Regions from separate parts of the Homo sapiens genome. Here region 2 is linked to region 1. Evidence: fine-mapped expression QTL. Tissue or cell type: whole blood. Region 1 holds a variant in brackets; the other region holds the start of a gene. All regions are shown on one strand. Distances are between the middles of the regions.

Evidence for each region.
Region 2: GBA1 starts here. The variant in region 1 is fine-mapped to the expression of GBA1 in whole blood (TOPMed, PIP 0.95).

The regions. Positions count from the first base shown.
Region 1 is chr1:155,975,405-155,980,404 of GRCh38, reverse strand. ARHGEF2 (Rho/Rac guanine nucleotide exchange factor 2) reads left to right here and starts at 1,858. Exons shown (of 22, transcript NM_001162383.2): 1 at 1,858-2,040. The coding sequence starts at 1,978. It overlaps ARHGEF2-AS2 (ARHGEF2 antisense RNA 2), which reads right to left and starts at 1,766. Exons shown (of 3, transcript NR_183460.1): 1 at 1,711-1,766; 2 at 950-1,085. RefSeq lists enhancers at 664-713, 101-722, 1,184-1,253, 3,384-3,463, 3,580-4,081 and 1 more and silencers at 1,594-1,643, 1,704-1,863. The variant G/C (reference allele first, on the strand shown) is at 2,521.
Region 2 is chr1:155,238,440-155,243,439 of GRCh38, reverse strand. It overlaps GBA1 (glucosylceramidase beta 1), which reads left to right and starts at 2,191. Exons shown (of 11, transcript NM_000157.4): 1 at 2,191-2,354; 2 at 2,723-2,810; 3 at 3,363-3,554; 4 at 3,678-3,824; 5 at 4,790-4,923. The coding sequence starts at 2,328.

The DNA.
Region 1 (5,000 bases):
CATAGAGACCTTCTTAGTTGAGTTGAGGGACCATGAGGTCGCTTGAAAAACCCCAGGGTTCAAATTCTATGTTTCCTGGGTACCCAGGCTGGAGTGTGGCCCTTTAAGATTCTATCCATAGCTTGCAGCACCCTCCTGCCCCAGGCCTGGGAGAGAAGCTGAGGTCCCACCCCAGATCTTGTCTCTGGGCCTCCAGTGGGTGGAACCTTGAGGCCAAGATTCTAGCCTCTGGCTGTCTGTTTTTAAATTTAGTACATTCCTGAGTCTTGGCTGCCCACCTCAGGGGAGGTGAGTCTGGAGTTCTGGGGCCAGGAGCCTCAGGCCTCTTGGTTTGGGGGAGTTCCTACACCCTCCCCGTAGGTATACTTGGCAGGTGCAAGCCAGGAAGAACAAGCTGTGGCCCTGGGGAAGTCCTTCCTGCTTTCTAATGTCCATCCAGCCTGAACTGGGCACGGTTTATTTCCTCTTCCTTTTTCCTGGTCTTTGCTATTTAAGGATTCTAAACAGGGGAATGGGTGAAGAAGGAGGTGAAGGAGTTGCTAGGAAGGAGGGGAAGCCGGAGGGGCAGTGTGGGGGTAGTGCTGGGGGTGAGGAGCCCAACCAGCTCAGCCAGTGGTGAGGTAGTGGAGCCCAAAAATAGTGGCAGAGGCTAAAATTGGCACCTACAAGAGTGCTGAGTTGGGCTTGAAACCTGCAGCCTGGCCCCACTGCTGAGCCAGGGCAGAGAACTGCTGGATCTGGGTTGGGTCTCCCCTCCCTCCCTTCTTCTCCCACGCCCTTTGGGGCCAGAATCAGGCAGGACCCTGCTAACCGAAGGCTCTGTCCCAGGCCTCTCTGTGCTTCTGGTTTCTCCAGAGAAATGGGAGACCCTGAGAGGCAGAAATGAACTTCACTGTAAGTGATCATAGTTAGACTGGAGGAGGAATTTTCCCAATAGCAGGAAACTCACCCAAAGGCTGGCTCAGGCTGGGGAAAAGGGTCCAGAGAGATGAATGCCCCACCTTACCCTGCTTCTTGGGGAGAGGCTGGTTGGGCCCTAACTTTCTTTGACTAGGGCAGGCTGGTTTCTGGTCTTTCAGTTCCGGCTTAACTTGCAACAGAGAGAACTGCAGTTAGACACATGGAAGGCCTTCGGTAAAAGTGGAGAATCCCAACCTAGTCCCCCAAAGTAGCTGGCAGAGGCGGAGCTAGGAGGAGGGCAGAGTGGGGTCAGGAAGGCCCCAGAAGGGTGGGGCATGTGGGAGAATTCTCTCCTCTCTGTTCTTCGACCTCTGGGAGTGAATCCTACCCTTCCCGTGTACTGAAGATCCAGCGTTTAGTTCTCCTTTGATTTCCTCTCCCTCTGGCCACCCCTGCCCCCAATCGTAAAAGGGGTCAGTCTGCTCAGGCCTGCTTTGATGGGACCCCGAAGGCCAGGAAGGAACTGGTCCTGGGTTTTCTAAGAGCTGGGGGCGGATGGAATTCTCCTGCCTGCGGGTCTTTAAAGACTGAGGTAACGCAGTAGGGGAGGGAAAAAGGGAGGGCGAGGGGAGAAGGGAAGAAGGGGAGGGCAGAGGGGAAAGGGCCAACCTGGGTCCGGCGAGGGCTGCGGGGCTGGGTTTTAGGAAAAGAAGAGCTAAGAGGCGGGTCTCTGGGGCTAGAGGGCGCCCCCAGGCGCTGGAGGGGAAATAGGCAGAGGGGCCTCTCAAACCTGTCCTAGGACCCTCGTACCTCTCCGAGCTGCCCCCACACAAACCCTGGCGTCCCGTCCTGCGCGCGGGCACCCCGCCCTCCCTCCGCTCCGCCTACCCCCTTCCTGAGCTTGGGCGGGGGAGGAGACTCGGGTTTGAGGAACTGGTGCTGGGTGCCGGGCGAGGGGAGTCAGACTTCCTGTCCCCGAGACCAACGCGTGCGGGCCGAACCCCTCCCCCCGCCTTCCCCCAACAATACAGGACGCCGGGGTCCGCGCCGCGTCCTCCCTGGTCCCCCCGTCCGATTATGTCTCGGATCGAATCCCTCACGCGGGCGCGGATCGACCGGAGCAGAGAGCTGGCGAGCAAGGTGGGCTCGGAAACCCCTCTCCTTTCGCCGCGGTCCTCGGGTGCTCCCCGAACCCCGGCACCCGCGGTGCATCTCCTGTCTCCCCGCCTGCTTTCTGGGCGCCAAAATCGGGCGGAGCGGTGGATCGGCGAGCGGCGGGACGGGGTGGGTGGGGACTGCGAGCGAGTGGGTAGGGGTGGGGGGAGCGGCAGACGCGACGGTGCTGGGATCCCGGGAGGGAGCGGAGCGGACCTGGGCTTGGTCGCCTCCAAGCCGGCGGGACCGAGTGCTTTAGGCCGCTTGAAAGAAAGTTGCTCCGGTAAGGGACGGAGCGGGAAGAGGGAGGTGTGTGTCTCGCGGGTGGGGGCGGTGGAAGCTCCGGCACCTCCTCTCACCCCGGGCCCCACCGGCTTGGGCTTGGCGTGGCGACCCCCCATCACTCCCCAATCGCTGGCTTGGTCGTTCCCCCTTTGTCCCCGCCATCCGGCGGAGGGGACGGGA[G/C]GGGGTGGTTTCCCGGCTTCCTCCCACCACCACCACCACCCCTCCAAGACAAAAGTCAGCTCCTCCTCTCCTCGCAAATGGACTTTCCAGCTGTGATTCAGTTCTCCCCTCTGGGTGGGCGGGTGGCTGGGGTCGGGACGGCCGAGGGACGGCTTACTTCCCCCAAACCATCACCTCTAGGTGAAGGGAGCAGAGGTCTTTGTGTAGCTGGGCTCCTTTCCTCCATCCTGAGCCCTTCTGCCTGGAACATAGGGCCTCCATCCCTATCTGCCCCGCCAGCCTCCTAGCTCTTCCTTCTCCCAACCTGAAACCCTTAGGCTGACACACCTGGCACTATGCATTGTGTTCCCTGCCCTTCCTCCTCCTCCCCCAGCGCTCTCATTCTCTTATCTGCTCGTCTTGGGGTCCCTTCACCTAGCATTTCATGAGTCTGGGTGTATAATTATCCACACGCCTCCCCCATCATGACCTCTTGGCCACTCCTCTCCAAGTACCCTTTATCCCTGCCTTTGTACCCAGCCCCATTCCCAAGTGCCCTGACCTTTCCACACCCAGACCCCAGGAAATGATGAAGCTGACTTGCAGGTGAATAAGTCAGAGCTGAAAGGAAGGTGGTGCCTGCAGACAGCACCTCCCAGCTCCTTTGGGGCCCCCGCACTGTACCCATTATCAGAAAGGACAGGTCCCAGCCCAGAGTTGGTTTAATCTCTGGCTTCTCTCCAACCTGAGTGCCCTACTACCCTGGTGCCAGCCTATGCTGATCACCAACTTCAGCCAAGGGAGCAGTACCCCTTAGGAGTCCTTAAGGGTGATGGAAAGCCCTCCCCTCCACCTCCCTGGTAGTTCCTAGCCAGGCTACCTGTCTTGATGCTAAACTGGGAGAGACAGAGGTTCCATCCTGGGTTGGGGGTGGAGGGCCAGGGAAAGCAGCTTTAAAAGGACTTTCCTTAGGGGGTTGGGATTAGATTTTGCTATCTGGAAAGCAACTGGGGATTCGAGTAGGGCCTAAGACAAACAGAGGGCCGGGGTGAGGTGGCTGAAGTGTGGTGGAACAGTGGGGTGGCAGACAGGCTCTTCACAGCCTGCGCCAGCCCAGGCCCCAGCTCCAAAAGTCTGTTTATTTTTTCAACCGTTTGAGCTGAGACCCTGGAGTAGAGCCAAGGGGGGCGGGGGAGGTTTTTTGAAACCGCAGAAATTTGGTTCCACCCTAAAAAGGAAAGCCATGGGGGAGCTGGTTGGGGGAAGACCTGGCTAGGGGGTATAGAGAGCGGTTCTGTGGGGGCAGGTAGCTACTGGGATCCCTTTTCCATTATTGTGGGGAGCTGGGACGTCAGACATCTGGGTGTTCATGCTCTGTTTTTGTTTTTGTTTTTGGTGGTGGGGGGACTGGCTCTTCTTTCTACTATGGGGGCTGGCTGTGTGGGGCAGGTAATTTGGGAATCTGGCTGGCAGCAGGGAGTCGGGGGCTGAGTGGGTGGATCTGAGAGGGCAAAGAGGCCACCGGAGAAGGGTGGTTGTCAGTTTGGGCCGGTCGGAAGGGGAGGGCCACCTCCGGAAAACTGTGGTTACAGAAGGGGGAGTTGGTTCTTAGCCAACAAACCCTGGATCCCCTCTCCCCCTCCCCCCAGCACACCAGCTGTCTCCTTTCTTTTTATACTGTGGTGGGAAGTAGAGGGGCACCCGCTGGAAAAGACATTATTTGAAGAAGATGGTGTCCCCTGCTACCTCCTTGGGGGGATGGGTCACAGCTAAGCCCTGACACCTCAGCCCCTCCCCATTCCTTGCCTCATTCCCTGGGAGCTCCTCCTAGGAGGAGGAATGTAAGTTTAACCTGCCCCTTTCTCTGTCCCATCCTCACAGGATCTCTCTGTGTAGCCCCCTCCATGCTTCCTTTTTCTTTTCACTCCATTTCTGTTCTCCCAGGCTGTCTTCAGTCCTCCACCTCCTCTGTTCTCTCTGCTCTACTTCCTACCTCCACAAGCCCCAAACCTCACAGGTCCCCTTTCTCTCTTTAGTCCCCTGTTCTTCCCTTTCTCCTTTCCCAAACCCCAACCATCATATCCCTTAGAACAAAGGGTCCTTTTCTGCCAAGCAGGGACCAGAGGTCCAGGGATGGCTGTGGAGGCTGGGGGTCCCCTTGGAATCTCTGTGGTGGGCAGGTGGAGTGGGGAGTGTGCAGAGCGACTATTTCTTTGTTCTGAGGAATGGAGAGGTGGCTGGCTTTGTGTGCAGGACTAGGAGTGCAGTGGAGAGGAGAGCTGGGGGAGCCCAGGAGGGAGCTGAGAGGGCTGACGGTGTTGGAGGAGAGTGGAAGAATGGGGGGTCCTCCTGGTGGCTGAGGCTTCTGGGGACATAGACAAAAATTCTAGGGGTCGTGGAGGTTAGGGAGAGAGTTGAGGGGGAGGGGAGAAGTGAGGATAGGGGAAGGGAGTCTAAAGCTTAGGGAAGTCACTGAGTGACTTGCAGGAGGTTAGATGGGG
Region 2 (5,000 bases), 740 kb after region 1:
AGGCTCACTATGCAGAGGGGAAGTGGAAGGAGATGTTTGGACTTCTAAACTCAATAGAGCAGGAGAGGCAAATGTAGAATGTGCTCAGGAAATATCTGTGAGATGAATGAACTTGAGGGAAGTAAGGTACTAGATATTACCTGCCCTACCCAGAACAAATCCTGTGCAATGTTTCCTTGAAAAGTGAGAAGTCTGGAAGGGGTGGCTACTGACATAGTGAAGCAACTAGTTCAATTCTACAACTTGACAGCTACCCCTGTGCCAGGCTATCTACGAGGATACTTAGAATGCATAAGACATTCCTTCAAGGAACTCCAGGAACAGAGGCCTGACATGTTGCAATGTTTAGTGTCAAGCAGTGTACTAGAGACACATTATCACACTCAAACCTCACAACAATTCTGTGAGGTAGGAGTTATCACTCCCCTTTTATAGATGAAACAGAGGCTTAGAGTGATTGATTTATTGAAAGTCAAACAGCCAGTAAATGGTGTAGCCAGGATTCCAAACTTGCTGTCTCACTGAGACTGTACTTAATTACTGGAGGGACCGGGTGTGGTGGCTCATTGCTATAATCCCAACACCTTGGGAGGCTGAGGCTGGTGGATCACCTGAGGTCAGGGGTTCGAGACCAGCCTGGCCAACATGGTGAAACCCCATCTCTACTAAAAATACAAAAATTAGCTGGGCATGGTGGTGGGCTCCTGTAATCCCAGCTACTCAGGAGGCTGAGGCAGGGCAATTGCTTGAGCCGAGATCACACTGCACTCCAGCCTGGGCAACAGGGCAAGACTCTGTCTCAAAACCAAAAAAAAAAAAATTACTGGAGGAACCTAGAAGAAGAAATGATCAATTTTGCTTGGAGTGTATCTAGAAAGACTTCACTGAGATCATTTAAAGAACAAAAAGGATGGCTGGGGTCCAGCGCAGTGGCTCATGCCTGTAATCCCAGCACTTTCGGATACCAAGGCAGCAGATCACCTGAGGTCCAGAGTTTCAGACCAGCCTGGCCAACATAGTGAAACCCCATCTCTACTAAAAATAAAAAAATTAGCTGAGCATGTTGGAGGGCACCTGTAATCCCAGCTACTTGGGAGGCTGAGGCAGGAGAATCACTCGAACCCAGGAGGTGGAGGTTGCAGTGAGCCAAGATCACGCCACTGCACTCCAGCCTGGGCAACAGAGTGAGACTCTGTCTCAAAAAACAACAACAACAAAAAATACAAACAAGAGACAAGTAGTTCCCAGGTGCCTACCAAGTGGTCAGGCACTGCACTTACCTCACTGACTGCAGTAACCACCCTTTGAGGTTGTGGCATTGCCTCCATTTTCCAGGCAAGGAAATGGGCTGAGAGCTGGGATTAGTCAGGTCATGACTGTGTGTGCCACTCCCGCTAAATCTCATTTGATGTGGTTCATGAGGCCACACCATGGACAGCTTCCTCCTTGTGTCCACTGAGGATATGGCTTTGTACAACACTTTGGTTTTTGAACGACTTTACAAACCTCCCTGTCTTGTGAGGAAGGAAGAACAGTTATTACCATCTGCATCTGATGATGAAACAAGGGACGCTGCAGAGGAGCCGCACTGACCACTCCCTCCCTCCAGTCCTGTCATCCCACTGCCAGTGTCCCACCCTCTTGTGCCCTGCACTTCACTGGCTAATAACCCCCCTCACTTTTTCCTCTGTGAAGCCATCCTGGATAATTCCCCACCCACGAATGGTCCCTCCTCATCTCAGAGAGCTCTCCATGCACACCTGTTACCGTTTCTGTCTTTATCTGTAAATATCTGTGTGTCTGACTTCCATGCCTCACACACCTCTATAGGGCAAAGACTGTCTTAAACATCTTGGTAGTGTCAGTATTTTGCACAGTGAAGTTTTTTTTTTTAAATTATATCAGCTTTATTTGTACCTTTTTGACATTTCTATCAAAAAAGAAGTGTGCCTGCTGTGGTTCCCATCCTCTGGGATTTAGGAGCCTCTACCCCATTCTCCATGCAAATCTGTGTTCTAGGCTCTTCCTAAAGTTGTCACCCATACATGCCCTCCAGAGTTTTATAGGGCATATAATCTGTAACAGATGAGAGGAAGCCAATTGCCCTTTAGAAATATGGCTGTGATTGCCTCACTTCCTGTGTCATGTGACGCTCCTAGTCATCACATGACCCATCCACATCGGGAAGCCGGAATTACTTGCAGGGCTAACCTAGTGCCTATAGCTAAGGCAGGTACCTGCATCCTTGTTTTTGTTTAGTGGATCCTCTATCCTTCAGAGACTCTGGAACCCCTGTGGTCTTCTCTTCATCTAATGACCCTGAGGGGATGGAGTTTTCAAGTCCTTCCAGAGAGGTAAGAGAGAGAGCTCCCAATCAGCATTGTCACAGTGCTTCTGGAATCCTGGCACTGGAATTTAATGAATGACAGACTCTCTTTGAATCCAGGGCCATCATGGCTCTTTGAGCAAGGCACAGATGGAGGGAGGGGTCGAAGTTGAAATGGGTGGGAAGAGTGGTGGGGAGCATCCTGATTTGGGGTGGGCAGAGAGTTGTCATCAGAAGGGTTGCAGGGAGAGCTGCACCCAGGTTTCTGTGGGCCTTGTCCTAATGAATGTGGGAGACCGGGCCATGGGCACCCAAAGGCAGCTAAGCCCTGCCCAGGAGAGTAGTTGAGGGGTGGAGAGGGGCTTGCTTTTCAGTCATTCCTCATTCTGTCCTCAGGAATGTCCCAAGCCTTTGAGTAGGGTAAGCATCATGGCTGGCAGCCTCACAGGATTGCTTCTACTTCAGGCAGTGTCGTGGGCATCAGGTGAGTGAGTCAAGGCAGTGGGGAGGTAGCACAGAGCCTCCCTTCTGCCTCATAGTCCTTTGGTAGCCTTCCAGTAAGCTGGTGGTAGACTTTTAGTAGGTGCTCAATAAATCCTTTTGAGTGACTGAGACCAACTTTGGGGTGAGGATTTTGTTTTTTTTCTTTTGAAACAGAGTCTTACTCTGTTGCCTGGGCTGGAGTGCAGTGGTGCAATTTTGGCTCATTCCAACCTCTGCCTCCCAGATTCAAGCGATTCTCTTGCTTCAGCTTCCCAGGTAGCTGGGATTACAGGCGGCCACCACTACGCCCAGCTAATTTTTGTATTTTTAGTAGAGACGGGGTTTCACCATGCTGGCAAGGCAGGTCTCAAACTCCTCACCTCAGGTGATCCGCCCACCTCGGCCTCCTAAAGTGCTAGGATTACAGGTGTGAGCCCCTGCGCCCGGCCAAGGGGTGAGGAATTTTGAAACCGTGTTCAGTCTCTCCTAGCAGATGTGTCCATTCTCCATGTCTTCATCAGACCTCACTCTGCTTGTACTCCCTCCCTCCCAGGTGCCCGCCCCTGCATCCCTAAAAGCTTCGGCTACAGCTCGGTGGTGTGTGTCTGCAATGCCACATACTGTGACTCCTTTGACCCCCCGACCTTTCCTGCCCTTGGTACCTTCAGCCGCTATGAGAGTACACGCAGTGGGCGACGGATGGAGCTGAGTATGGGGCCCATCCAGGCTAATCACACGGGCACAGGTAACCATTACACCCCTCACCCCCTGGGCCAGGCTGGGTCCTCCTAGAGGTAAATGGTGTCAGTGATCACCATGGAGTTTCCCGCTGGGTACTGATACCCTTATTCCCTGTGGATGTCCTCAGGCCTGCTACTGACCCTGCAGCCAGAACAGAAGTTCCAGAAAGTGAAGGGATTTGGAGGGGCCATGACAGATGCTGCTGCTCTCAACATCCTTGCCCTGTCACCCCCTGCCCAAAATTTGCTACTTAAATCGTACTTCTCTGAAGAAGGTGAGGAGGAAGGGGACAAGATGACATAGAGCCATTGAAACTTTTCGTTTTTCTTTTCTTTTTTTAAAATTTTTTTGAGGCAGAATCTCACTCTGCCCATTCTGTCGGCGAGACAGGAGTGCAGTGGTGTGATCTCCCCTCACAGCAACCTCTGCCTCCCAGGCTATAGTGATTCTCCTGCCTCAGCCTCCTGAGTAGCTGGAATTATAGGCGTGCGCCACTACCACCTGGCTAATTTTTGTATTTTTAGTAGAGACAGGGTTTCATCATGTTGACCAGGCTAGTCTTAAACTCCTGACCTCAAATGATATACCTGCCTTGGCCTCCCGAAGTGCTGGAATTACAAGTGTGAGCCACCGAGCCCAGCAGACACTTTTCTTTTTTCTTTTTTTTTTTTTGAGACAGAGTCTCGCACTGTCACCCAGGCTGGAGTGCAGTGGCACAATCTCAGCTCACTGCAACCTCCACCTCCCGGGTTCAGGTGATTCTCCTGTCTCAGCCTCTCGAGTACCTGGGATTACAGGTGCCTGCCACCACGCCCGGCTAATTTTTTGTATTTTTAGTAGAGACAGGGTTTCACTATGTTGGCCAGGATGATTGCGAACTCCTGACCTCGTGATCTGCCCACATCGGCCTCCCAAAGTGCTGGGATTACATGCGTGAGCCACTGACACTTTTCTTTGCCCTTTCTTTGGACCCTGACTTCTGCCCATCCCTGACATTTGGTTCCTGTTTTAATGCCCTGTGAAATAAGATTTCACCGCCTATCATCTGCTAACTGCTACGGACTCAGGCTCAGAAAGGCCTGCGCTTCACCCAGGTGCCAGCCTCCACAGGTTCCAACCCAGGAGCCCAAGTTCCCTTTGGCCCTGACTCAGACACTATTAGGACTGGCAAGTGATAAGCAGAGTCCCATACTCTCCTATTGACTCGGACTACCATATCTTGATCATCCTTTTCTGTAGGAATCGGATATAACATCATCCGGGTACCCATGGCCAGCTGTGACTTCTCCATCCGCACCTACACCTATGCAGACACCCCTGATGATTTCCAGTTGCACAACTTCAGCCTCCCAGAGGAAGATACCAAGCTCAAGGTAGGCATTCTAGCTTTTTCAGGCCCTGAGGGCCCTGATGTCTGGGGGTTGAGAAACTGTAGGGTAGGTCTGCTTGT